Linked DNA regions of Homo sapiens: regions 1, 2, 3 and 5 are each linked to region 4. Evidence: fine-mapped expression QTL. A gene starts in region 4. Each other region holds a variant in brackets. All regions are shown on one strand. Distances are between the middles of the regions.

Evidence for each region. PIP is the estimated chance that this variant, and not a neighbour inherited with it, causes the effect.
Region 1: its variant is fine-mapped to the expression of CDC42EP3 in whole blood (INTERVAL, PIP above 0.99).
Region 2: its variant is fine-mapped to the expression of CDC42EP3 in whole blood (INTERVAL, PIP 0.99).
Region 3: its variant is fine-mapped to the expression of CDC42EP3 in whole blood (TOPMed, PIP 0.99).
Region 5: its variant is fine-mapped to the expression of CDC42EP3 in whole blood (TOPMed, PIP above 0.99).

Annotation. Positions count from the first base shown.
Region 1 is chr2:37,696,582-37,701,686 of GRCh38, forward strand. No RefSeq gene overlaps it. Among named protein-coding and RNA genes, the nearest start is that of CDC42EP3, 27 kb to the left of the region's middle. The variant C/T (reference allele first, on the strand shown) is at 2,177.
Region 2 is chr2:37,645,190-37,650,291 of GRCh38, forward strand. It overlaps CDC42EP3 (CDC42 effector protein 3), which reads right to left. Exons shown (of 2, transcript NM_006449.5): 2 at 1-1,633. The coding sequence starts at 1,398. The coding sequence ends at 634. Among named protein-coding and RNA genes, the nearest start is that of CDC42EP3, 24 kb to the right of the region's middle. The variant G/C (reference allele first, on the strand shown) is at 2,947.
Region 3 is chr2:37,826,522-37,831,626 of GRCh38, forward strand. PIRAT1 (PU.1 (SPI1) induced regulator of S100A8 and S100A9 alarmin transcription 1) reads right to left here. Exons shown (of 4, transcript NR_110012.1): 3 at 2,412-2,517; 4 at 1-1,357. Among named protein-coding and RNA genes, the nearest start is that of PIRAT1, 47 kb to the right of the region's middle. The variant C/T (reference allele first, on the strand shown) is at 2,833.
Region 4 is chr2:37,668,868-37,673,972 of GRCh38, forward strand. CDC42EP3 (CDC42 effector protein 3) reads right to left here and starts at 2,775. Exons shown (of 2, transcript NM_006449.5): 1 at 2,559-2,775. RefSeq lists silencers at 2,564-3,053, 3,224-3,283, 3,294-3,363, 3,584-3,753.
Region 5 is chr2:37,765,903-37,771,007 of GRCh38, forward strand. The region is part of intron 2 of LOC107985869 (a long non-coding RNA gene); the gene reads left to right. Among named protein-coding and RNA genes, the nearest start is that of CDC42EP3, 97 kb to the left of the region's middle. The variant C/T (reference allele first, on the strand shown) is at 2,165.

The sequences.
Region 1 (5,105 bases), 28 kb after region 4:
TGTTAACATTTTGTGCCACTAAGTAATAGGATTGAACACTTTACAATGGCTTTTCATGTCTTTTGCCCATTTTCTAATTGAATTTTTTTTAACCATTGGGTTTTGAGAGTCCTTTATATATTCTAGATTCTAGCACTTTTGTCATATATGTGGTTTGCAAATATTTTATCCCTTCCTATACTTTGTCTTTTCATCCTCTCAACAGTCTTTTACAAAGCAAACATTTTTAATTTTAGTGAAGTCTAATTAATCATTTTTTAAATGAATTGTGTATTTGGAGTCAAGTCTGAGAACTCTTTTCCTAGCCCTAGATCCCACACATTTTCCATTTTTTTAAGCAAAACTTTTATAGTTTTATATTTGACATTTAAGTCTGTGATCCATTTTGAGTTAATTTTTGTATAGGGTATGAGTTTATGTCAAGTATTAATTGTTTGTCCTTAGATGTCCAATTGCTCCAGCACCATTTGTTGAAAAGGCTAGCCTTCCTTCATTGACTTGTTTTTGCACCTTTGTCAAAAACCAGTTGGGTGTATTTGTGTGAGTCTATTTCTGGGCTCTCTACTCTCTTCCATTGATCTATGTGTCTATTCCTCTGTAAATACCACACAGTCGTGATTACATACCTTGAAATTGGGAAGACTGATTCATCCCATTTTATTCTTCTTTTTCAAAATTGTTTCAGCTATTTTAGTTACTTTGCTTTTCCATATAATTTTAGAGTAATCTTGTCTACATCTAAAACAAAAACTTGCTGAGATTTTGATAGAAATTGTGTTAAACGTATTTATTAACTTGGGGAGAATTGACCTCTTTACTACATTGCGTCTTCCAATCTATGAACACAGTATATCTCTCCATTTATTTAGATTTTCTTTTATTTCTTTTATTAGCATTTTGTAGTTTCCAGCGTACATGTGCTTTACACATTTTGTCATATTTATACCAGAGTATTCCAGTTTTTGAGCAATTGTAATTGGTATTGTATTTTCAATTTCTGTGTTTCTAGACTTTCCCTTTCTTTGTTCTTTGGCTAAAAGGAGCAGGCGTTTTAGGGGGGCTTTTCTGTCTGTACCCGTCAACGTTTCTAGGATTGCTGGCTTCTTCAGTCTGACATATATGAAGTAAAAAGAAAACCCAGGGGGCTTATCACTTTTGATTCCTTGGGTCTCAGTGTCCTTAGCTAGCTCCATAATTCCCATTACATCTTTGTGCATAATTTTTGCAAACCTCAGGGTTTTCAGCTGTGTCTGTGTTGCATTATGGCAGAAATACCCATACAGTAAACCTGAAACCTGTCCTTCAAGAACTTACAGTTTGGAAGGCTCTACATTTCTCCCATATCTAACCTAATATTTCATGGTATATTAGCTGAAACAGAGGCAAGTTTCTTGGTTGCTGAATATTTCCTCCATCTGCCTGTCATTGCCCTTAAAGCTTCACTATTTGTATTGCATTCTAGTGATTTTTTTTTTTTTTTTTTTTTTTTTTTGAGGTGGAGTCTCGCTCTGTCGCCCAGGCTGGAGTGCAATGGCGCGATCTCGGCTCACTGCAAGCTCCACCTCCCGGGTTCACGCCATTCTCCCGCCTCAGCCTCCAGAGTAGGTGGGACTACAGGCACCCGCCACCACGCCCGGCTAATTTTTTTTTGTATTTTTTTAGTAGAGATGGGGTTTCACCGTGTTAGCCGGGATGGTCTCGATCTCCTGACCTCGTGATCCACCCACGTCGGCCTCCCAAAGTGCTGGGATTACAGGCGTGAGCCACCGCACCCGGCCTGAACTTTGTTATTTTTACCAATAAAATATAATTACTACAATATCTCAGAAGTGTTCAAAAAACTATGCCCATCCAGGGGAAGAAGGGAGGAAAGCATCGATTTGGAGACTCCCTATCACACTTGGCCCTAAAGACTAATTTCAGCTTCATAGATGTATTTTATGCAGGTCTTGCATACTGACAACCTGTTCTGCTGTTTCAGATTCGTCGTTCAGTCTAGTAAATGGGCTTGCTGGTTTTTTTCAATAGAGCTTTTATCTTCTTTTTTGTTTGTTTGTTTTTGCCTATTTCATTTCTTGAAACTGAAATGCTATTTTCCTTCCTGTTAAGTGATTCATGTTCACAAAGTCTTTACATTAAAAACAAACCTCACCTTATCTAGCTGTTTCTGATTAAA[C/T]TGACCCAGTTCTGACCATTCTTTTTTTCTCCAGTTTCTCTAGAAATTTAGGTATTTGGTTTGTGTTTTAGTAATTTACATTTGCTGAAAGGTTTTCAAAAACTACGTATTGCCAAACACTGCACATGTGCATAGTCAGTTCAGACTGTAAATTCCACTGGGACACAGGCAGTCCTAGTTTTGCCTTTTCTCAGATCACCTATATCAGTTATTTTCCACAAGCCAGACACTGTAGTTCACATGCGAGAGTGCTTCTGAGTGAAACTGAATTTGAGGCATTTCAAAAAGTTACAGCATACCTAAACAGCAGAGAGGTCAAGAATGCTAGATGAATAAGATATAAATATTTAGTAGGTATTCTATTGCTGAATGAGTAAGAGTAAATGAATGCCTGCATACATGAAGACTACTGGGGCTTGACAAATCCATTTTCAGTGGAAATTATTTTGGTGCATCAAATATTTATTAAGTACCTAATATGTTCCTCCTGTCACTTTGTTAGAGCCACAGATGCAAATGTAAAAAATTTAAAAAATTCAGTCTGTGGCTCCCAGGAAAATAGACACAGGGTGAAATATACACATACTCACATGGATAATACAAGCCAAAAGTAGGATGCTGGGAGCGCTCAGGGAGATTGTAGAGCTTGGCAGGATAGCTCAGGAAATGATTCCTGGGTAGGATGACACCACTCAAAGCTTAGTGTGTAAGAGTCAACCAGTCAAAGAACGAGCTAGAGTGGGAAAGGGCATTGCAGACCAAAGGAAGGCACAGGAGCATTTTTAGCAGGATTACTGCAGTGAAGGACAAGTTGTTTAGTATTATTAAAGTATAAAGTGGATAGTAGCAATTTGGGAGAGTTAGGACTGGGGAGGTAGGTAGAGACAGATAATGAAGGGCCTGTTTTTCCCAAGAAGGGGCTCAGCCAGGCTTGGAAGAGTCACTGGATTACCACAGGCAGAGGAGAAAAGGAGAAAAGGTCAACTCTGTGTTAGAGCAATTCCTTTGGCAGCCAGGTGGAGGATGGATTTCCTGAGTAAATTAAAAGCAGGAAAAGAGTGTGATAATCTAGGCAGGAGATAATTGAGGCCTTGAACTGGACTGTGATAATAGAAACACAGAGAAGGAATGGATTAGAGGACTATTTAGCAGGAAAAATTGTCAGACTTGGTGGTGATAGAATATGGAAGATGAAAAAGAAAGATGAGTCTAGGTTGACCGCCAGATTCCTGCTTTGGGAGACTGGGTAACTTTTGCGTCGTTGTGTCATGGAGGTGGGGGAAGAGAATGGATGATGTTGTGAAGATGACAAGTACAATTTTGTACTTGTTGAGTTGGAGGTACCTATGAGGATATTCAAGTGAATGGAGGAATACCTTCAACTGGGGAAGGCTATTTGGGAATGCCATGTTCTTAAGGGCGAACCAGGTTTCAGTTAAGGTCAGGAAGTGAAGGGAGTGTCTGCAAAGAGATTGAAGATGTAGGATGGTTGGGCTGTCACGGAAAGAAAGTTCCAGAGGACACAGTTGATAGCTAGGAGGCAGGGGTGGGGGAAGAGTGATTGGACAGAGACAGGAGGCTTAGAGTCCCATGAAATCAGTGTATGAGACAGTCAGGGAGCATCAGCAACATCATCATCAAGCAGTCACCTTGGTCTGGTGAGTGAAGAAGACATGGCTTTTGTCTTGGTAGGGTCAGCTGGCCTTAAGGATCTTCCATGGAATTTAGGACTTTAGGCAGGACAGAGTCTGAGTTTGTCTTTGGGTGACTCCAGTCAAGGGCGGTTAATATTGGTAGTGACTTTGGAGTCTGTGATGTGGTCTCCAGGCAGCAGTCCCCATGAACTCTACAAGCTGTGTGGTGAGTGGAAACCAGACTGGCTCCAAGATAGCCATCTATATGATTTTATCTAAAAATATACATCAATCAGAAAGTTAACCAGAAGGTTCACATTTAATTAACCAGAATATTTCAAATTTTCTTCTACACTGGTAATGGAGACAAAGTAAGGAAAAATAGAGAGGTCGAGAAAACACATAAATGCTGAGAACCACATAAATTAACTACTGCTTTGTTACTCAGAAATAATTTTGAAGTCATTTGCAGGAGTAAAATGAATTTCTAGAATAGATGCTTTTTCCTTATACAATCCAACTTCTAAAACCCTCTGAAATCTGATTATTTTTACTGAATGCTACCAATACGGGTATTGTAGCTGAGCATGTGACTTAAGAAGTTCAACAACAGATAAATGCCCTAAAATAGAAAGCCATTTTATTTTATTTTATTTTATTTTACTGAACAAGTATATGCTTTTTATTCATCATTATTCCCTAAACAATACAGTATAACAAACATTTACATAGCATTTACACTGTATTGAGTATTATAAGTAATCTAGAGATGATTTAAAGTATACAGGAGGATATGCATAGGTTATATGCGAATACTGTGCCATTTGATTAATTAATTATTTCCATAAGTTATTGGGGTACAAGTGGTATTTGGTTATATGAGTAAGTTCTTTAGTAGTGATTTGTGAGATTTTGGTGCACCTATTGCCTAAGCGTTATACCCTACACCATATTTGTAGTCTTTTATCCCTCGCGCCCTTGCCACTCTTCCCCCCAATTCCCAAAGTCCATTGCATCATTCTTATGCCTTGTGGCATCATAGCTTAGCTCCCACATATGAGTAAGAATATATGATGTTTGGTTTTCCATTCCTGAGTTACTTCACTTAGAATAATAGTCTCCAATTTCATCCAGGTCACTGCAAATGCTGTTAATTCATTCCTTTTTATGGCTGCGTAGTATTCCATCATGTGTATATATACACCACAGTTTCTTTATCCACTGTTGATTGATGGGCATTTGGGTTGGTTCCACGATTTTGCAATTGTGAATTGTGCTGCTAGAAGCATGCATGT
Region 2 (5,102 bases), 24 kb before region 4:
TTAAAAATAACTTAGTTACAGTAATACTTTGCCTGTGTCTTACCAACATGTAGCTGACAGTCAAAATTTTGCAATATAGATATAATATATAGGGATATATAAGAACTACAAGAAAATCCCCAAAACCCATAAAGTTCAAATGTGAAAACAGAAAAGTTTTAACACTGGAGAATTCGCTATGGTGAGCCTAAGCAATATATAGAAAAGAGTCTACAAAAAGGCTTAGGTGTTAAATAAATTTTGACTTCCTCTTGCTCAGAAAATGTCGGAGTGCTATAAAGTTCCGTGAAGTTCCTTAATGTGACTCGCTCAGCCCTTCATAGCTAGTGCCAATCCTGGCCAAGCCAGATTTCTTGTGTGTCTGCAAACAATATGTGAGCCGAACATCACCAATGCCTCCTGAAAATGGGCTCTGACTCACTTCCTTTTTTTGCCAAGATAGGTTTTGCTTTGTTGTTTTTTTCTAAATTGTTTTTGCAAACAGGGCATAACAGGTAAAAAAATACTTTGTAAGAATATTATTTTAGAAAACCCAACACAAAACTGCAAATACAGCTCCGGAAGCCCTTCTCTTCAACTGTGGTTAGTTTGTTTTTGTACCTTTTACCCCAAAGGAAAAAAGTTGGCATCTTGTTACTTATTTTTATCCATTACATTCAGCACCTCATCCAAAAGTGAGGGCCCAAGATCAAGCTGCAGGGAGAGGAGGGAACCTGTAAGGTCAGAGAGGGACTCCTCTGACTTAGTCTTTCCCTTGATGAGCTCGCATGGGGTGGGATGGTCAAACATGTCCTCGGCTGGCCAGTCGGGGTACTGTTCGGACAGGCTGGAGGAGTGGCTGTCTCTGCCTTGGCTGGACTGAGATGCAGAACCGCTGGAGCCCCACGAGGTGTCTCCCTGGTGGACTGTCCCATTCTCCAACAGACTGCTTTTCTCCTGAGCTTTTTCCTCCATGACGGGCTCGCAGCTAAGCCTGGGCAGCTTTGCTGGCCCGAAGGACTCCTGTTTGGAATTAAATGTCACTGGTGACAATAAGGGCAACATGAGAGCTTGGGATCCTCCAATGGTCGGGAGGGAGATGGCATTTTTGAGCACCGGGGAGGGCGTTTCTGTGAACACAGAGTCCGAGGTGCTGTTGGCCCGGAAGAACTCATTATGCCCAGGGAACTGGCCCAGGTGTGCTTTCTCCTGGTTTCCAGGTAAAAGCTCGTAGTTCCCTTGAAGAAAGGAAATATCTCCAAAGACATCGTGCTGGCCCTCTTTGCCAATGTGGATGGTGTGGCGAAAGTCTCCAAGCGGGGGACTGATCATATCAGGAGACAGAATGTCCCTCAGTTTAAATTTCTTTCCTTTCTTGTTATTGGCTGCTTTCAGGTAAATTGGGGTCTTGGCTGGCATTTTGGAATTTGAGAATGTCTATTTTGCAAGCGGGAGAAAGGGCCACTTTCTTCACAGATGGTATATGTTTCTGAATCCTTTTTGATAGGAACTGTCACATCATTTTTCTCAAGTGGCTTCAGAAGTGGCTTCGAAATGAGATGGGGTCAAAGAGAACCTTCCTGAGGTTACGGCCAAGTGAGGCTTCCTAGAGAGCCAGTTACATCATCCAGTCTTGACCACAACCAGGACAAACCTGCAGAAGAAACCAAAGCAGGTTATAAGCTAAAGACCCTTTTGGGTGCCCTAGGGCCTCCCTTTTCACAAGAGCCTGTAAATAATGGCAGGGCCAGTTTCAACTAATGCTGAACTTATTGTTTCCCTCCAGTAAGTGGATAAAAATTTTCATCTTAGAGAAAACAGGAAAGAGAAAGACCTAAAAACCCCATATCTATGACACCAGTACTTTTTAGACATAGCCATGGGCACATCTTCTGGACATGTCTATGGTTTTAGTCATTTTCCTCTAAGAATTGCTGTAAGCATAGGATCAGTGATTTCAGCTCCTTAAATACAACTGGATTTGTTTTAAAATACATTTTCCTTTTGCTTTGATGTGCATACTAGCAACACTAATATTTCATTGTTGAGTTCCATATGTACATAAGTTAATGCAATAAAATGAACAGTCCTAAAGGAAAGGTGCTGGAATTATTTAATAAGTGACAATAACTATTATATGCTACTGTCCTAAAAATGTTAGTGGAATACATTCTTACAGATAAGAAAACGGAGATTCAGGATAAGCCCTTCCCCTAGAAAGTTACCTTTTCTCAATAACATATAGCCAGTAAATAAGAGAGCTAGAGTTGTAATCAGGTTGTGGCAAAGTATTGGGCTGTCGAGGATGTCAGGATTTGAAGTCATTCTGAGATGGGAGGAAATGAACAAAACTGCTTCACTTCAAAGAGAAAACATTGTGAATCTCTATTACAGGCTGGGCCTTCACTTGGGAACACTTCTGAAACATTACTGATAAGGCTATATCCTCCATGCAGTAGGCAGAATTCGAAGGGAGCCCCCATGATCTGCCTCCTGGTGTTAATGCCTTTGTGAGTAGAACCTGTGACTGGCTTCTAAACAAGGGAATGTGGCAAAGGCAATAGGTCCCTGATTAGGTTACATTATAGGAGATTTCATCTGAGCTGACAAGGGAGAAGACTCCCTGACTCCCTTTGCTGGCTGTGGAGAGGTGAGCAGTTACACTGTGCAAGGGCCTATGGAAATGAAATCTGCCAACAATGTTGGGGAGCTTGGAAGTAGATCTTTTCCCCAGTTGAGCCTCTGATGAGACCACCACCCTGACCCACACTGAATCATAACTCAGGGAGATGCTGGAACTCAGCCCTGCCCAGATTCCTGACCCACAGAACCTGTGAAATGGTAAATGTTGTAAGCCCTCAAGTTTGTGGTCGTTTGTTACCAGTGTAGAAAGCAACACATCCTCCCTGCACATACTATATGATAAGATTAGGAGGGATGAGCTACAAGGCATTGGGGTTGTAATGT[G/C]CTCTTTTGCCAATGAGATGCTCTTATCTCTTGAAAATAATCCTCCACCTCTGATGCTGACACAGAGAAGCTAAACCCTTTCCCACTGCAGGAACTTCCCAAATGGCTCTGCCATGACCTCTTCCCTCAGGCGCTCCTCCCACTGGCTGCAGAGCCTGCAAATAAATACTCCAAGGGCTGGGTGGGTTAGTTGGTGTTTTGAAGGGAGCCACATTTGCTTGTAGCAGCTGGAGGCTGTCTGCATCTGCCCCATATTTCTTTCCTTTCAGCAAGAGTTTTAAATTCATTTACCAGTGGCAGGTGACAAGAACTGTGCTCCACCACCCACTGGCTCAGTAACAGCTAACTCAATTTGGGAAGCAGCTAGCTCAGCGTGTCAGCATGCTGGCCAGCAACCCAGGCCGGAGAAGGCTGAGAACAATGCACTAGAGAGAGCCAGCCCCACTCGGGCTTTGGGTATGGGGAGGAGGCAGAGAAAGTACGAGGAGGTTTGCATTCATGCAGAGTGGGCTGACCATGGGGCTGCCAGCAATGACATGATCGTGGGTCCTGACACTCGTTCTCATAGTTTTAGCTCTAATTTGGGTCTTGTTGTGGTAACAAAAGTTGAAGCCCATGTTCTTCCTGTTAAAACATCAGAACTTCCTTCCTGTATGAGTGTACAATGCCTAGTCCTGGCCTCGGGCCCCCTGCTGTTCAGAGGTGGCCTCCCTGCCCTTTGGGCACAGTGTGGCTGACTGCCTGCAGGAGCAGCTGGGTGGCCTGAGGAACAGCTGCCCACAGGAGTGGTGTCCTCAGCACACACGGCCAGGAAGGCAGCTGCCATGGAAAGATACAGCGTGTCCACCACAACTCAAGGGCATGCCAGGGCTGCCTGGGGTCAGCTGATGGAGGCAGGGTTATGCAAGGCCAGGTCCCAGGGCAGGGGGTTCCAATTATTTAAAAAAAAAAAAAAAAATCGATCACTTAAGGCCTGGAGTTTGAGGTCAGCCTGGGCAACATAGCAAGACCCTGTCTCTATGAAAAAAAAATTAGCTGGGCATGGGGGCACCCGCCGGTAGTCCCAGCTACTCAGGAGGCTGAAGCAGGAGGACTGACTGAGTCCAGGAGTTTGAAACCAGCCTGGGCAACATAATGGGACCTCATCTCTACAAAAACTTTCTTAAAAAATTAGCTGAGAATGGTAGCACACACCTGCAGTCTTAGCTACTTGGGAGGCTGAGGTGGGAGGACTGGTTGAGCCCAGGAATTCAAGGCTGCGGAGAGCTATGATTGTACCACTGCACTACAGCCTAGCAAGGCCTTGTCTCAAAAAAAAAAAAAAAAAAAAAAAAAAAAAAAAAAAAATCCCATGAAAATGTAGCCAGAGAGCAGTTCCCTGCCACTCTGACTGGATCATTCACATACACCCTTGAATTAAACAAGGATTTGGGACAGTGAGGAGGAAGAGCAAAGGGGGAGAAAGTGTGTGCTGCTGAGGGTGCAGGGGAGGGAGGGCCCAGTCGGTAGGCTGGTGGGGGCTGGGCACCCACCAGGGAGCAAGATGCTCGTCAAGCCCCAGCCTTTGGTCAGTCCTTGCCCAGCCACAGGCACCAGCACCAGGGGCCTCCAACCAGAGGCTCACTCATCCTGCTTGAAGTGGGGCTTCATGTCGGTGGCATGGAGGCAAAGGTTGGAGGGAAGCAGCAAAGAAAAAGGCAAGAAAAGGGTTGGTGGGGAGGCTACCTAAGCTGTAGTGAGATTCTGGTGAGTAGGAGATACTGGAGAAGATACCTTCAGAGGCATTTTGCTTTCTTTCTACAAATATTTACATCATATTTACTGCATGATGGGGCATAGGCTTCTAGGACTATAGAAAAAAATAATTTGAATTGAATCTGAATTGCCAATCCTAACAGCTCCCAAATACCCTGAAAGTTAAGAATTTTGGGCAAAATGTCAGTTTTACAACTCTAGGTAAGTTGACGTTTGTGCTGCTGGGAAAGTATCTGGCAGCTCTGATCTAGTCCTTCTATTGCATCTGTTCTCTTCCTCCCCAGCTCAGGGGCAACCATGATTGATCCCAGGAGAGTCAATCCAACGCTGATAATCCAATGCCCATAATTTCTCGAACTGACCACTTCCTTCTCTCTCCTTTCTGAACATTCTGGGCTAAG
Region 3 (5,105 bases), 160 kb after region 4:
CTTCTGTCTCCTATAAGGAGACACTTGTCATTGGATATAGGACCCACCCTGATAATCCAGGATGTTCTCATCTCTGAGAGCCTCAATGTAATTACATCTGCAAAGACCCTTTTGCCTAATAAGGTCACATTCACAGGTTCCAGGGATTAGGAGATACATGTATCTTTTGGGGACCACCATTCAGTTCACTACAGCTGAGCAGCTGGGATTTGACTCAAGCAGTCCAGCTCCAGCACGTGGCCTCCGACCATCACGCCATGCTCTCTCATGTGGTTACTTTTCACAGGTGTCAGCAAAATGCCTGCTCAATGATCTGAGATTTTTTTTCACAAATCATCACAGAGCTGAAATGCTCATTTTTCTGTGCTGCTACTCTGTCCATGTTCCAGAAAGGCAGCACATTAAGTCTACACCACATCACGCATCCCCTGACAGATGGAGAGAATATCAGCAAATCAGATTGCTTTCTAAAGAAAACAGAATCCAACTTTGCAAATGTTTAAAGCTTGCATATTTTCAAAATTTCAAGCAAAAGTAGAAAACCTCATTACCTCAGATCACGGTTGACAAAACTACCATTGACAAAGAATTATCCTACATGCAATGAAAACCCAATATAAGACAGTGAGTGATTGTCCAAAACGTGGGTGTTAGGTCACTACCCAGACAACAGCAGAGTTGACGGTTCTACCCTAGCTCTCTTTTGATGAGGGAAAACATTATTTTTAAATGAAGCCTGCCACTTCAGTGTAGAAAACATAAAGATGTGGACAGTCACCATTGTCATTTAAAGGGTGAGCTGTATTTCTTCTGAAGTAAAGTGATGAGTCCAGGCAGTACACTCACTCTATCAGATATGATTTGAAAAGCTGAAAAATAAACCTCTGACAATAAGATTTTAGGACAGAAATGCTGCCAGGGCTCGAAGTACATTTCAGAAGAATAAAAAGAAAGTAAACGATGCCAAAGGCCAGACAAACAAAAGGAAAATTCCTACTTCGTTTGTTCTCATGAAATGCCACAGAAAAATAATCTGTTAGGCAGCTCTTCTGGAGTCCAAGTTCTTGCGCTGTGCTCATCTCTTCTTTCTGTTAAAGCTCGGTGCTTTGCAAGCTGTCGTTAAATTGCTTACACGGATGGACGGGGCCAAGATGGTTTTCAGTCTAAAGCCAGTGAGAGTCTCAAGGCAGATTCTGAAGGCCTTGAACCACCTGAGCCTGGCCAGATGGATTCTTCCTTTCACTGTTGTGACCATTGCTTTGGTGTCAGAACCCTATGGGAGAGCTGAGTCCATGACCAGAATCCTCATGCCTTTCACAACTCCAATTAGCCAAGAGCATGGCACGGAGCAGAGGTGCTGGTGGGAGAAAACAACACATAGGTGAAAAACCTCGGGATTAGGCATTTCAAACAAGAGGCATTCATTTTGCCCGACACCCAGAGTTGCCCCATAAACAAGCCAGAAACTCAACCAGGCGGTGACGGAACAAGGAATGGATGAGTGACAAACTGGGCTGTTGATTCTGTTGTAACTGAGGCTTGACTGTATTAACAAGCATGCAGTGATTAAACAGACCAGCACCAGAATTTTAGCAGCTACCTTGAAGCCTGCTGACTGACACTGTCCCTGGAGCCCCTGTTATAATGAGGTCCTTGTGATAACTTACTCCCTTGGATAGAGTCCAAGACAGGCACGTGCCCTGTGGAATTCCACACTGTAACCAACCATACTTCAGAGAGATTCCAGAATAATGATGGTATTGCTTATTTAGGCTGAAGGTTATCTGCTCCTCCTCCTCCAGATCCCTGCCAGCCAAGGGAAGAGCATCTCATTGGTGTCAGATGACAAGGGTCTTGTTCCCTTTACTGGAATAAGCTTCTTATGTCATACAGACTCTGGAAGTCCTGAAAAGCCATCTGTCTTGGCCTTTACTTTAGGAAAGAAAGTATCATAACCTGCCACAGCAGTGGGGACAGCTGAAGCCGGGGGTTACTATTCGCCCTTGTTACTATTCATGGAGGCTCTTAGGGAAATGACCAAAAAGCTCTTTATGGCTCTTGCAATTAATCCTGAAATTCTGGTTGTCACTTGTGGGTAGAAACATATGGTTTACAAATGGGTTGATGATTATTATTTCAAGGAAAAACTAAAACATTATAATGAGAGTTATAACATAATGGTGGGACAGTATAAATAGGGAGAGAATTTGTAGTGTTTTCTTGTTCGTTTTGTTACATGAATAGACAGCTAGGGGAAAATGGCATTCTATGGGGAACTGATGGGATTTATTTAATATTTATTTAAATAAATTTATTTATTTATTTATTTAGACACCTCTTTTTTCCCGTCTAAGTTATAAACTAATTAAGAGATGGACAAAGAATAAGGTAAAGGAAGGTCAAAATATTACCTTGGGCAGGGTGCAGTGTCTCACACCTGTAATCCCAGCACTTTGGGAGGCCAAGGCAGGAGGATCACTTGAGTTCAGGAGTTTAAAATAGCAACATAAGAAGAATCTGTCTCTCCAAAAAAGAAAAAGAAAAGAAAAAAAGGAGGTGAGGTGGCACATACCTCTAGTCCCAGCTACATGGGAGGCTAGGGTGGGAGGATCACCTAAGCCCAGGAGGTCAAGGCTGCAGTGAGCTGTGATCACACCACTACACTGCAGCCTGGGTGACAGAGTAAGACTGTTCCTCAAAAAAATAAAAATAAAAATAAAAATTACCTCAGTTCGTGAAAACAGCAAAGATGTGTGGCATGACTAGCTCCATTCCCTGGAATTAGGAAATATCACCACACTTATGATGAATCTTACAAAACTTAAGCCTTCC[C/T]ACTCAGGGAGGGCCACATAGACATGAGAAAGTAGAGCAGAATGTGGTTGTTTTCCAGGGGAAGCTGGCTTCTAATGAGAAGGGAGGGAGGGAGGGCCTGGGCTTCCTGTGCAGATTCATTTCCCTTGGTTACCAGCAGGTCACTCACCCCACCTCCGTGGGCATTAGCCATGAGGCAAGAAGTAAGAGGAGTTTAGAAAAAAATCCTTGTTTCTGGAAACCAGAGAGGAGGGAGACACGGTTCACTCAATGAGTAGGAACTTCAATGGTTAAATGTGTCTTCTTGTAACAAACATCCATGTAACTATTTGAGGCCAGAATGAATTCTTCCTGGTGTTTCTTTAGGTGATTTCTCCAAGGGAGGCCTGTGGTATGCAGGGGATTTTTACCAAGACCAGCGTTCTCATGAGTCCAGAGGCTCATCTGCCCTTAGAGGATTGGAAGATTTGCATCCGCTTCCACAAGCTGCTAGCCTAATCCTCTAAGGTTCAAATCTGCCAGGGATCCATACCATGAAGGCAGTCCTCCTGAGTTTGCTTTGGAGTCTGACACTTTTCATTATGGACATCAGTGATTGACACCCTGATTGTACTTAGAATCACCCAGAGGGAGCTTTTAAAAAGTATTGGTACCCAGGCCCCTCCTCAAACTGAGAAAACTGAGGACTCTGTGGGTGAGCCTGGACATGGATGGCTTTACCAAGCTCTCCAGATGAGTCTAACGTGCACCCTGGCTTGAGAAGCATGGAGTGGCAGTCACAGAAGCCCAGGTTGGCAGCTGTCTCAGGCAGGAAATGTAGAATGGCAGTTAAAACTGTTAGCCCTGGAGAAGAATCCTGATCCCATTCCTTACTGAGTGTTTGTTAAGTTACTTAAACATTCTTAGTCTCCCCAGGGTGACCAAGGCCATCCGTAAAAGGAAATCCACTCCAGTAAGTGAGTTGAAGCCTTGGTCTTCATCATTTATGATGGTCAACGGAGAAGTTTCCTTTTGTTTGATGCCACCCTTCGTGTCTGTTGCAAATGGCAATGAGCCAGAACTCTGCCATGCAGATGCTCGGGTTATGCCCATGCCAGAGAGTCCAGTGTGGCTCAGGATCAATCAAAACAGAAAGTACCATCCTAAAGTCAGCGTCTGGATTTTCCCCGTCAAAACATTCAACTCCCATGGTATATATATTTTTGCTTATTCAATTCATATTTTGAATTCATATTATGAATTAGTCGAATTTTTAGATATGCTTAGTTGTTGGTCCATGTCACAGCTATCTAGCCTGTAAGGACCATTTCTTCTTGCTCTTATCTTGAGAAAATCACACACTGGTGCTTAGTTAATAAATAGTTCTTGATTATGGAAATAATTATGGCCTTGGAAGAATTCTGTTTATATAAGCAAGAACTCTTAGGTCTTAATCTTGCAACTGAAAGGGATCATAGAGACCCAGGTCTTCAAGTTGAAGGGAAACTTGCCGAGGGCCACACAGGCACTCAGAGGCAGGCCCAGATTTGACTGTTCTCTCTCCAAGTCCATTTTTCTTCCAACTTTATCATGTTGCCTCCCTATACAACCCTCTAAACTACTTCTCTCTCTTTTCTAAATCCATTTTTTTTCTGATTTCTCTTTCTGCCACAAATGTTCCGAATTTATGAAGAAAGAAAATGGAGAAAAGATTTGAGTAGACATTTCTGGTTTCCATGCTTGGATTGCTTCGGAGGATTAGTTTTACTGTTCCAGCTTGTTTCTTTATCAGTTTAAAGGGCAAAACAACTTCCACCCTTTTGAGGCAGCAAGAGGTCAGTCCTCTGCCATCCTCCCCCACGGCCAGGCAGAGCCAACTGCAGCCCATGGGTACCTTCCACCGCCTTCTTCCCTGGGATGGAGTCAGACAGACCTGCAGAGGGGCGACCACTCAGCTTGGGCAGCCAAGGCAATACCTGTCATCACTGTAGTGGGCTTGAAGCCCAGTGTCCTTCACTGCCAGCCTTGATGGCTTTAGCTGTGAAAACTCTCCTGACAAAGGAGGCTCTCACAGGCTCCAGTCATGGGAGCCCTACAGCCAGGATTTCAGGAAACTAGGGTGGAATGGGCAGAACAAGAGTTTGTCCAACAACTGAACAGGACAGGAGGTTCCTACTGCTTGGAAATCTATTTGTGTGTTCCAGAGATGTGCAGAACAAAGACCTACACATGGTTATTTTGGCAAGAACAGGAAGGTTTAGATTATCCTTTTCCACCCCGTGAAAGTGGCCACCTAAGATGTGAGTGTTGAAGGA
Region 4 (5,105 bases):
GCAATATATTAGGAAAATTCTTGGTCTTCTATGGCTTGGTGAGGCACACAAGATTTTGTGGCTGGCTGAATCCAGTATTTTCAAATGGCTATCCTTGTTCTCTGGCAAACATACTGCATTTAAAAATAGATTTCTCATTCAATCAATGAAAAGAAATACAGGTTCACAGGATTCTGGTTAGTAAGAAATGAGACTGGGCCTAGATAAAATCTGACTGAAAGCAAGAATCTGAATAACAATAATAATAATAATAATACGATCAGAGCAGTCTTCTTGGAGGTTTTTAGGTTACGAATTATATTCCACCCACTGGATAAATGTTACAGTTAATGGTCAAAGAATTTGTGAAAAATCTATGGCCTGGCTAAAAAAAAAAAAAAAAAAAAATCTTTGGGTGATACAGGTGAAAGCAATTTTATCCCCAACACTGTTGAATACCAGGAACTTTATACATGAAAAAAGCACAGCTTTTGTGAGCATGTTGGACATAAAACAAAACACCACATTAAAGGAAAGGCTGGAGCGCAGACAGGGCAAATGAACTCATGTGAGCCCTTCTGCAATCACTGTTACGGCTTTGTATTTATTCATCTTGCACCGCACTTAAATGTGCAATAAAAAGCAAAAAGTGTGCAACACTTATTACTCTAGCTGCTTTTACTTGTTCCATAGAGATACGTGAAACAATTTCACTGCTCAGATTGAGGGAAAGAGGAGCTCATCTCATTTCAAGCCTGTAGCTGCTGCCACAGCCTCAGCACCATGTTCTAATCATAGAATTCATCATGTAAATCTCTAGCAGATGATGCCATTGGAAAACAGAAACTGCCATGGATCCAGAAATGCTTCCAAATTTCTCCTCTAAAGTTCTTATCTGTGAGCCCAGAGGCTGGTGCTGTTTTATTCAAATGGGTGAGGCCCATTGGGAAACCCGCATTCTTTGGGAGACTTTATGAAGAATTTCAACCATTCCTTGACTATAGAAAGGGCCTTTATCATTTATTTCACATATGAAAATGCTAAATATTTCACAACTACTCCAACTTATTTCTGAGTGTCTAAATCTATTCTGAAAAGGGTATGCATCACACACATACCTGTGTAGCTTATTAACTACCAATAAGAGCTCACACAAATTGCAGGGGGTATGAAAGAGTAGACTTCTGGAACTGTCCAGAAAAGAAGAGAAGGTACATTTCCTGGTTTTAAGATGAAAGAGCTTGTGTAAATTAGAACATTACAGGAGCCTTTTAAATTGTCTTAGGGATACCTTTGGGGCATCATCGCTGGTTCCTGGTGAGTCTTTTTTCTCCCTGTGATGTTAACAGGAAGTCCCTAAAACTGGCTTTGCTATTAAAATACAGACATCTGCTGCTCTCCTAATTTTTGTTCCTTTTAAAAGGCAGTACTCCCAAGAAACTCTTGGATATTGTGAGAATTAAGAGCTGGGAGATGGGGATGGAATCTTTGTCTCCCTAACACATTCATCAGTTCCCTCCCTAGAGCCCCCCTACAACCTCAGCACACAGCAGCAGCCCACTCCTCCAAATACGCCAGGGCTGGAAAGATTCATGTTGCAATACCCTCCTGACATTCCTCATTTTAATTCGCTCACTTTTTTTTTTTTTTTTTTTAAACAAAATGTAATTACTTGACTGTCAGCCTAGGCTGCACTCTGGGGCTTTTACTCCTTTCAACACAGCTGCGCTCCCGGCTTTGATGCTGCTGTCCACGCAGCTTGTCCCAGCCACAGCCTGGCTCTCAGTAATGTAACATTCAAGTGCATATTTATTTTTAAACTGACCTCTCCTAGACTGCACAGTATAAAGGAGATCCTGCCCAAAAATATGCTACTTTCTATTTATAAGATGAAACACATGCCTCCCAAAGTCGAGAGAGGGATAGAGTATAATAATTCATAACGAAAAAATGGCCAGATCCATTCATCCTCACATGTCTGATACTTGTCTGTGTCAAGCCACTTAGTTTCAAGGAGAAAGGGAAGAAAACAAAAAACAAAAAACCTTGTAAACGTCTCAGCTGTTCACCGTCAAAAAACAAAAAAGTCAATATCCAGATCTGCAGGTTGGCGCCCCACTAACAATGTCCTCCATTAAGAAAGAGGAGGGCACCGGGCAGGCGATGCCACGGCAGAGCTGTGCGATGCACCCATGTGCGGCCCTGGTACCAATCCATGATGCGAGGGGCGCGGTAGCCAAGCGCGGCTTGTTCTCAGATGGAAAAATGCTATACGCGCCCAGAATGGCTCTGCCAATAGCTCGGAGGGTGCAATGTGGCCGCGCAGCCCCACCCTGAAAAGTAGTGGGCACAAATGGTGGAGCTCTGAGTCCTGGTCGTGCCGCCGGACCCCCTCCTGGCTTGCTTTATGTCCCCTTCGTTCCGTTGGACACTAGATGGGAAAGCGATGCCCTGGGTATCCCGACTCCCTGCTGGTTTCCCAGCCTAACACCAGCGCACGCCGGAAGCGGCCACGGCCGCGGGCGGGACAGACTCACAGACAGGTAGAGAGGAAGGAGCCCTGGGCTGCCCCGACTCACCGGCCGCCGCTGAGGATCCCAGCCGCTGCCCCGGGCCTCCCGCGGGCGCACGCAATCCCTGCCGCTGTGCGCAGATCCAGCCGAGTCTGCCGGCGTGGTGCCTGCTCACCGCATTATCCGCTCCGAGACGGCGTGAAGGCGCCCCAGGCCGGTGGCCGGGTCTCCGGGCTAGCCCCGCGCTGCGGTCCCCCGGCCGCGAGAGAAGGTGCGCGCGACTGAGCGCGGGGCGGCCGGACGCGAGGACTGAACCTGCGGAGGGCGGGGCGGCGCGGGGCGGGGCCGGCGGCGCGGGGACTCACTGGGGCGGGGCGGAGGGCGCGGGCAGCGGGGCCGACCCTCCCAGCCGCGGTACCTGTGCCCTGGCCCGGGGCCAACCGGTGGCCGGGCGCGCGCGCGGGGGGGGGTCACCGTTGGACCCTCGGAGGACAATGGGCGCCCATTGTTACCTCCCCAGCGCCACCCCCCAGTAGGCGACTTCTCTCGGAGAAGATGCCGCTTTCGACTCCCTAAGCACAAAGAAAGGTCGCCGGACGCTCGGTTTAAAGAGGGACCCGGAGGTGCTGCCGCCCGGGTGCACGGGGACAATAGGACTCCGCCCGCACCCCGGACTCCCGCACTAAAACTCGTGCGCCCACCTCTCCCGATCCCAACAGGCCGACCTAGCTGTGCGAGTGGCGGGCGGTGACCCGCAGGGAAGCGAGGCCACCTGAGTGCGCCGCCCCGGCCAGGCCGCAGCTCCCCAGGTCCCTCTCAGCCCGGGCTCCGGTGGGCGCGGAGGGGGAGGGTCGCGTTCTGTCAGTTTCTAGCTCGCTCCCCTCAGAGCTGCAGCCAAAACCCGGAGAGTGGAATAAGCGCCCTGAAGATGCCGGAGCTCCCGGCTGAGCAACTGGACACGCGACGAACAGCAGACGCTACAGGTTCTCCTACCCAGAGGGAGGCGTTTCTTCTCCCTCAGGGTCTTTCAAAAGGATTTGCCTAAAGCTGGGGCAAGCCGGTGGCGGCTGCCCCAGACGCGCGACGAGGCGCAAGTGGCGCAGCTGCCGGCCCGAGAGAGTAAAATTCAGGCCGCGGTGGCACCTGCGCCCGCCGGTCACCCGGCCACCGCCAGCGCCGCCGCCCGGCGCGCCCCTCCCCTCCGCCGGGGCCGGAGCGTGAACCGGGTTAATGAATGCTAATTTTCTTAATCGGCCTCCGTCTCTTCCTCCTCCGCGAGTCGTCGGCCTGGGGAAGGAGTAGGCGACAGGAAAGGGCGGTGTTTTCCGGCTGGGAGGTCCCAGCCCGCATGGTCAGCCAGGGGAGGGGGCTGGGACCCCTGGGAGTCGGACGCTGGGGGCCTGGCCTCTGCCCTGAGACTCTCGGGTTGGATGGAAATCCTGGCACAACGCGGAGAACCTCCCGGATACCTTGGCTTTGCCGAGAGATATCAGCTTCAGGTCATCACCGCGGTGCCCTGGGTCTGTCTGAAACCTTAGAGGGTGCGCCTTAAGCCGATGTTGTAAACCCAGGCTGACTTTAAGGTGAAGTGAAAAGGAAACGCACACAATCTGGAAAGCAAAATACTTGGGTGGGGTGTTAAAAGCCTCAAAGAAAAATAGTAGTTGGCAGGTCAAATGGCCATGAGGTTGGAAGTCAAATACGAAACTCGGCTGAAGTGATGTTAGAAGTTTGACAAGCAAAAACAGTCCGTGAAGATAAGAGACCCAGCATTGTTTCCCTTCTTCAAAAGACAACTCGTCCAAAGTTTCCTTTGGCAGATACCTGGATTCTACTCCAGATTCCTGAGCATTTTACTTGGGTTTCATATTTCAAAATATATGTTCCATTTGGCACTAATGTATATATTTTATATATTAATTTATTGAAAAATATTAAATGTTCCTGGCCTACTTAGAAAAAGGTATTTTTATAAATATTTATGCATAGTTTTCATTACATAGGGTATTTTATAAGTCCAAATAATATGTGTATATATATAAAATACCACATGCAAAATTCCTTTTGAACACATAAAGACATTCCCGACACACATGTCTTGTATGTAATTTTTTTCACGTGATCTATTGTTAGCTGCTGTTAAAAGCACTTTATTTCTACATGGCCAAATAAATAACTTCTTTTACAGTTTTTGCAAATATAGAGTGGCAGTTTGTCTGAAACGGCATTTTTATTCTAAAACCTATTTTTACTTTTCTACATTATCCCTTGCCTTTTAGAGGCTTTCTCTCCCTCTGCCGTTTTTAAATGAGACTTCACTGCTGGACTCTAAACAGTTATCCAGGACCTGCTCATTCAAGGGCCTGGTGGTTTGATTTATCTTGGCTCCTTTGGCCTCGCCTCCCCACCCCTCCCCTGCCCTCCCCTCCCCACCCCTCCGCTTCCCTCCCCTCCCCTTCCCTTCCTTTCCTTTTTTTTTTTTTTCCCCCAGGGTCTCAAACTCCTGGCCTCAAGTGATCCTTCTGCCTCAGCCTCCGAAAGTGCTGGGATTACAGGCATGAGCCACCATGCCCTGTGCCTCACGTTATTTCTTTGTACTGAACATCTTCAGTG
Region 5 (5,105 bases), 97 kb after region 4:
AGAGCTATCTTTTAAAAGAGCAGACCAAGTTCATGACAGAGAAGTTCTCTGGTGCATTCTGAAGCAAATAGAAAGAAAACAACAAAAATCTTAGAAAACTCGTAACTGACAAAATCAACTGCATTTGTTTTAGTTTGGAAACAGCACCAGCACCAGTTTCTTTCTTCTAAAAGAGTAAGAATTCACAGCAAGAATATTATTTTTGTTTACAAGAATTGTGTCTGAACCCTCTAAAATACGACTGTCAAGTCAAATGTCAAGAATGTTAATTAGTGAAAGGAAGGGGAGGAGTTGACGGGAGGCAGGCCGTCAGCACCAGCTCACTCTGTAAACAGAGCTGTGTCTTGAATTCCACAGCAATGGCATGGAGGCATTCTTTGAAAAGAGGAGATAATAGATGATGAAGTATCTAGCAAAAAAGATATGAAAAGCTTCTGTCCAAACACTGTTTATCAAACAAATATACTCTGATTGTAAACTGCCTAAAACTTGAGTTTCAGTTTGTTTAGCTCACCAGCATGTGAGTGTGTATATTCACTATTTGAGTTTTATTTCAGTTCTTCTCATTGAGGTCATTCCTTGTTTGAATTAGCTCATGCCCTCTGTTCAGAGGATCTCTTCAAAGTAGATTACAAGATTCAGAGATATTTTTTAAGTCCATTGATAAGTTCTCCAATTCTAAATATTCCACTGTTTAACCATCGGCCCATTAGCCCAGGCACAAAACAGGGAAGAAAGATACACCCGCATTAAAAACCAACAGGTTTTTTATTTCCTCAATGCTCCTGTGTCTTACCCTATTTAGAAATCATATGGCATATGCAAATAGATGTGGATAGGTTTGACAATTAAGTTATTATTTTATTTTTCTTTTAGACCTAGAGTTTAACCAAAACCATCGCTTCCATGCAACATCGCCCCAAATTCAACAGAGTGGGACTTGGCAGACAAGTTTTAATTATAGACCTTGCATCTATCTTGTGTCCATCAATATCATGGTTAACTTGGAAGTTAAAGAGGCATTTTGCAACATCACAGGTCTCTTCTCAACTCATTTAAAATTAATCCCAGTTAAAATAAAAAACACAAATCAAACAGGGCATTTTTCATATTCATTTTGTAGGTGCACTGTCAGAATTATAAATCAGCTTTGCCTAAGGAGTAAAATGAAACACACCCAAATGTAGTATTTTTAGGAAAAAATGTCTGGAAATGAGTGCATATGTTACTATGAATTTTTGTTAAAGATAAGCAAAACTCTAATATGCTAAAATTTATTGACTGGACAAAAATCTCCTCCACAGATGCAATTATTCACATACTCATTGGTCAAATATTTAGTGCATGCCTTGAGGATACACCACAAATCAACCCCTTCTCTGCTCCTCTTCCCCAGTCTCCAAAATCTACCTCCTACCTCCAACCCCACACTCACATGGAATTGCAAATAGCTTGATTGGATAAGCATGGACATCAGAGAAAACTCTCTGATACATTTTTGACACTTGCTAATAAAAGTATGTTGGGTGTTTTTCTTTCTACCTAAGGATGTTCCACCCATCATGGAGGGAAAATGGGGCTAAGAGAAGCCTGCCTCAGCTGGTGGGGTCATATCCACTCACAGATGTTAAGGAGTCTCCATGACAATGAGGACTTGAGGTGGGGAAGAAGAGACCCAGATATCTGCTTTGCCTTCTGTTCAAAAGCCAAGTGTCTGATTTTTCAAGTCTAGGGCTTTAAAACAAAAATCTCATTTGCAACATGCAGTCAGCAGCGGGGTGCCAAGCTCAGGACCTACCCCAAGGGGCTAGCAGCACTGTAGCCTCTGAGACCACCGTGCCACCTGGCTGTGCATTCAGATGTCATCCCTCCCCTCAGCAGGGCCAGGCTGACCACCAGACCGGCTGTAGAACCAGTTATTTGTACACCATGTTTGAAATGGACCTCAGAAATGGTACATTTGGTGAAAGTCAGGGTGTTCATAGAATTTATTATCCAAACTGGACATTTTTGAAAGAGAGAACTATTAATAATCATGCCAGGTCAACAGGCATGAGTGGAGCATGCCCCACAAAGACTTGGACACATGGCCATACCTGTATTTTTCTGTTTAGCAATTTGCAATTACTGCACACTTGAAGCATGTGTAGCTTCCCTGAGGCTC[C/T]ACCTCTAGGGTTATACTGCCTGGAAATGTATTTTGGGGAAAAACAAACTTGTTGAAGAAAATGTCCTCACAAATGTGTAGCAATAACTCTAGGGGAAGTCACATTCCCACTTGTCTTGCCCATTGTGGTTAGAGGAGATTCTAGAATTAGAAAAGAAACCAAAAAATGAAAGATCTGCTCTAAGGGCTTAATTTTGCCCTTCAGGAAACAAACATACAGAGTGGCCCGTGGGTTCTTTAAAAATGTTCCCCATCAATCTTCCACCTCCTGTTCCTTCAACTGCCTCTATCTTATTTCACTTTTTGAAAAAAGTTGTTTTATCTCTGGCCTAGAAACTTTGGTACAGTTTGTCAATATCAGGAAGTCCATTAAGTAAGATTGCATATTATCCTTGCCAGAGCACGGCTGGCTGTCCAGCAGACATCATTTTATGTTTTTGTCTTTCTTTATTTGAAATACCTTTGATGTATCATCTCAGACAAAAAATGTAGTTGTTCAACAGCTCAGGGAAGAAAGCCTGAGCTTGCCACAGGAGGAGACAGGGCTAAGGCTGGGGAGTTGGGGGGAGTGTAAATAAAGTAGAGGACTGGGCAGAGCTACAAGAAATATTTAGCATTCCTGGCTTCCCACAAAGGGTAGGTCAAGGAGAGGGAATGAGCAGTTGGGATGGAGCGTACACCACAACTATTCTTTTTCGGTCCTAATCCAGTCCACTGTGACACATAAATGTCCCCAGTGGGCAGACCCCGAGTTTATTGTGTTGTGTGGCAAATGCTGAGTAATTACACACGATGCCTGTCTATATGCAGGATGGGGTCAAACTCTGTGGCAAAGACACAGCTGCTGGTTTCATGGCTGTGTGACAAATCCACTTTTGCTAACAATCGTCAAAGCCATATTCATAACACTATGTGTTTAAGGGATTGAGCACTAAAAGTCCGCTTCCACAGGCCCCTGTCAAAACAAAGTCCACTTCTTTACAGTGTGCCCACAGGCTGTCTGTGTCAAAAACCTGGTGTCACTTTTTGGAGTGGGATCTTGGAAGAGGAGCCATGCTCACTGTTGTTTGCCTGGATAGTGAATTGAAGATGGGGCTCTCTTTTCTTGAAACTCTCGGCGGGGTGGGGGGGGAAAGAAACGCGCCTTAGCATCCAAAATAAAGACAACCACACATACACCAAAACAGAAACAGCCATTTTGTTTTTAAAAGATCTGGTCATTGACAGGCTTTCTTTCTGCCCCGCCACTATGGTCTTCTCGGGTTAATTCATCTCCTGCTGCTGCAGGATCTATAAAATACTGTATTGAGATGACTTCAGTAGGTTTCCAACAGTGGGATTTTCCAGCTACTGGAAATACCCAAGGCCAGTGTAAACTCATTTGTTTTTCTTAATTTGAGCCTTAATTGCAGAGCCTACTTTTTGCTGGATGCTAATCCTCTCAAGCACTTCTGAGGCAAACACTCTAGGAGAGGATGTGGACAGAAGTACCCACGGAAAAGGGGACACTGTGACAAAGGGGTCAGCAGGTGAACAAATGTCACATATACCTCCTCTGTGTCATGCGGATGAGCAGGTTCCAGGTGATGAAAGTGAGAAGGTGCCTCCCATTGCAGGGCCCTAGCAACATAATGCTGTTCAGAATGCTCTTAATACAGAAGTGCCTATATTAGTCAGTGTTCTCCAGAGAAAAGGAACTACTGGGAGAGAGAGAGATTAGAAGGAATTGGCTCACACAATTATGGAGGCTGGCAAAGCCCAAGATTTGTAGGGTGAGTTGACAAGCTGGAGACCCAGGAGAGCCAATGGTGTAGTTACAGTATGAAGGCGGGCAGGCTTGAGGTACAGGTACACTTCAAGTCCAAAGGCAGCAAACAACTAATTTTTCCTTCTAGTTCAAAGGTCATCAGGCAGAATAGTTTCTATCATGTTTAGAGGAGGGTCAGCCTTTTTGCTCTATTTGGACCTTCATCTGATTGGATGGGGTCCACCTACATATGGTGGGCAATCTGCTTTCCTCAGTCTACTGATTCAAATGTTAAATATCATCCAAAAATATCCTCACATAAACATCCAGTATAATGTTTGACAAAATATTTGGGCACCATGTGACCCAGGCAAGTAGACACATAAAAAATAATCATGGCAGCACCTGGCCATGAAATGATAAAACCGAGCTTCAAATCTAGCTCTGTCTGACTCCAAAACCCATATCCTTTCTACCACTGTAGTGACCGATTTTGTTCTCAGGAAACTTAATTGTTCTTAAGGAGGTAAGATTTATAAACATTAAAAACTCTGCTTAAGAAAGGTATGTGAGGCCAGGTGCGGTGGCTCACATCTGTAATCCCAGCACTTTGGGAGGCCGAGATGGGCAGATCACCTGAGGTCAGGAGTTTGAAACCCTCCTGGCCAACATGGAGAAACCCCATCTCTACTAAAAATACAAAAACAAGCCGGGCGTCGTGGCAGAGGCCTGTAATCCCAGCTACTCGGGAGGCTAAGGCAGGAGAATCACTTGAACCCGGGAGGTGGAGGTTGCAGTGAGCCAAGATCATGCCATTGCACTCCAGCCTGGGTGACAAGAGCGAGACTTCATCTCAAAAAAAAAAAAAAAAAAAAAGGTATGTGACATAATGTGTTACATTATGATAAATGATCAATCATATTAATCAGATAATTGACCCATCAGCTGTAAAGTGTGAACCATGTTTACACCCAAGTTTTATTCCCAGTGGTGTAAATGTCCTTTTTTCACTATTTCTTGAGTAGGATACCAAGTGTAACACACACTGGAGTGTCTTTCAACTCCACAAGGAAGCTGGAACTCAGAGGGGTCTGGACCTTCCAGGCAAGTCCCTGGCTCTGCTCAGGAAGTCTAGCCATCTGCTGATGCCATGTGATATGGTTTGGCTGTGTCCCCACCCAAATATCATCTTGA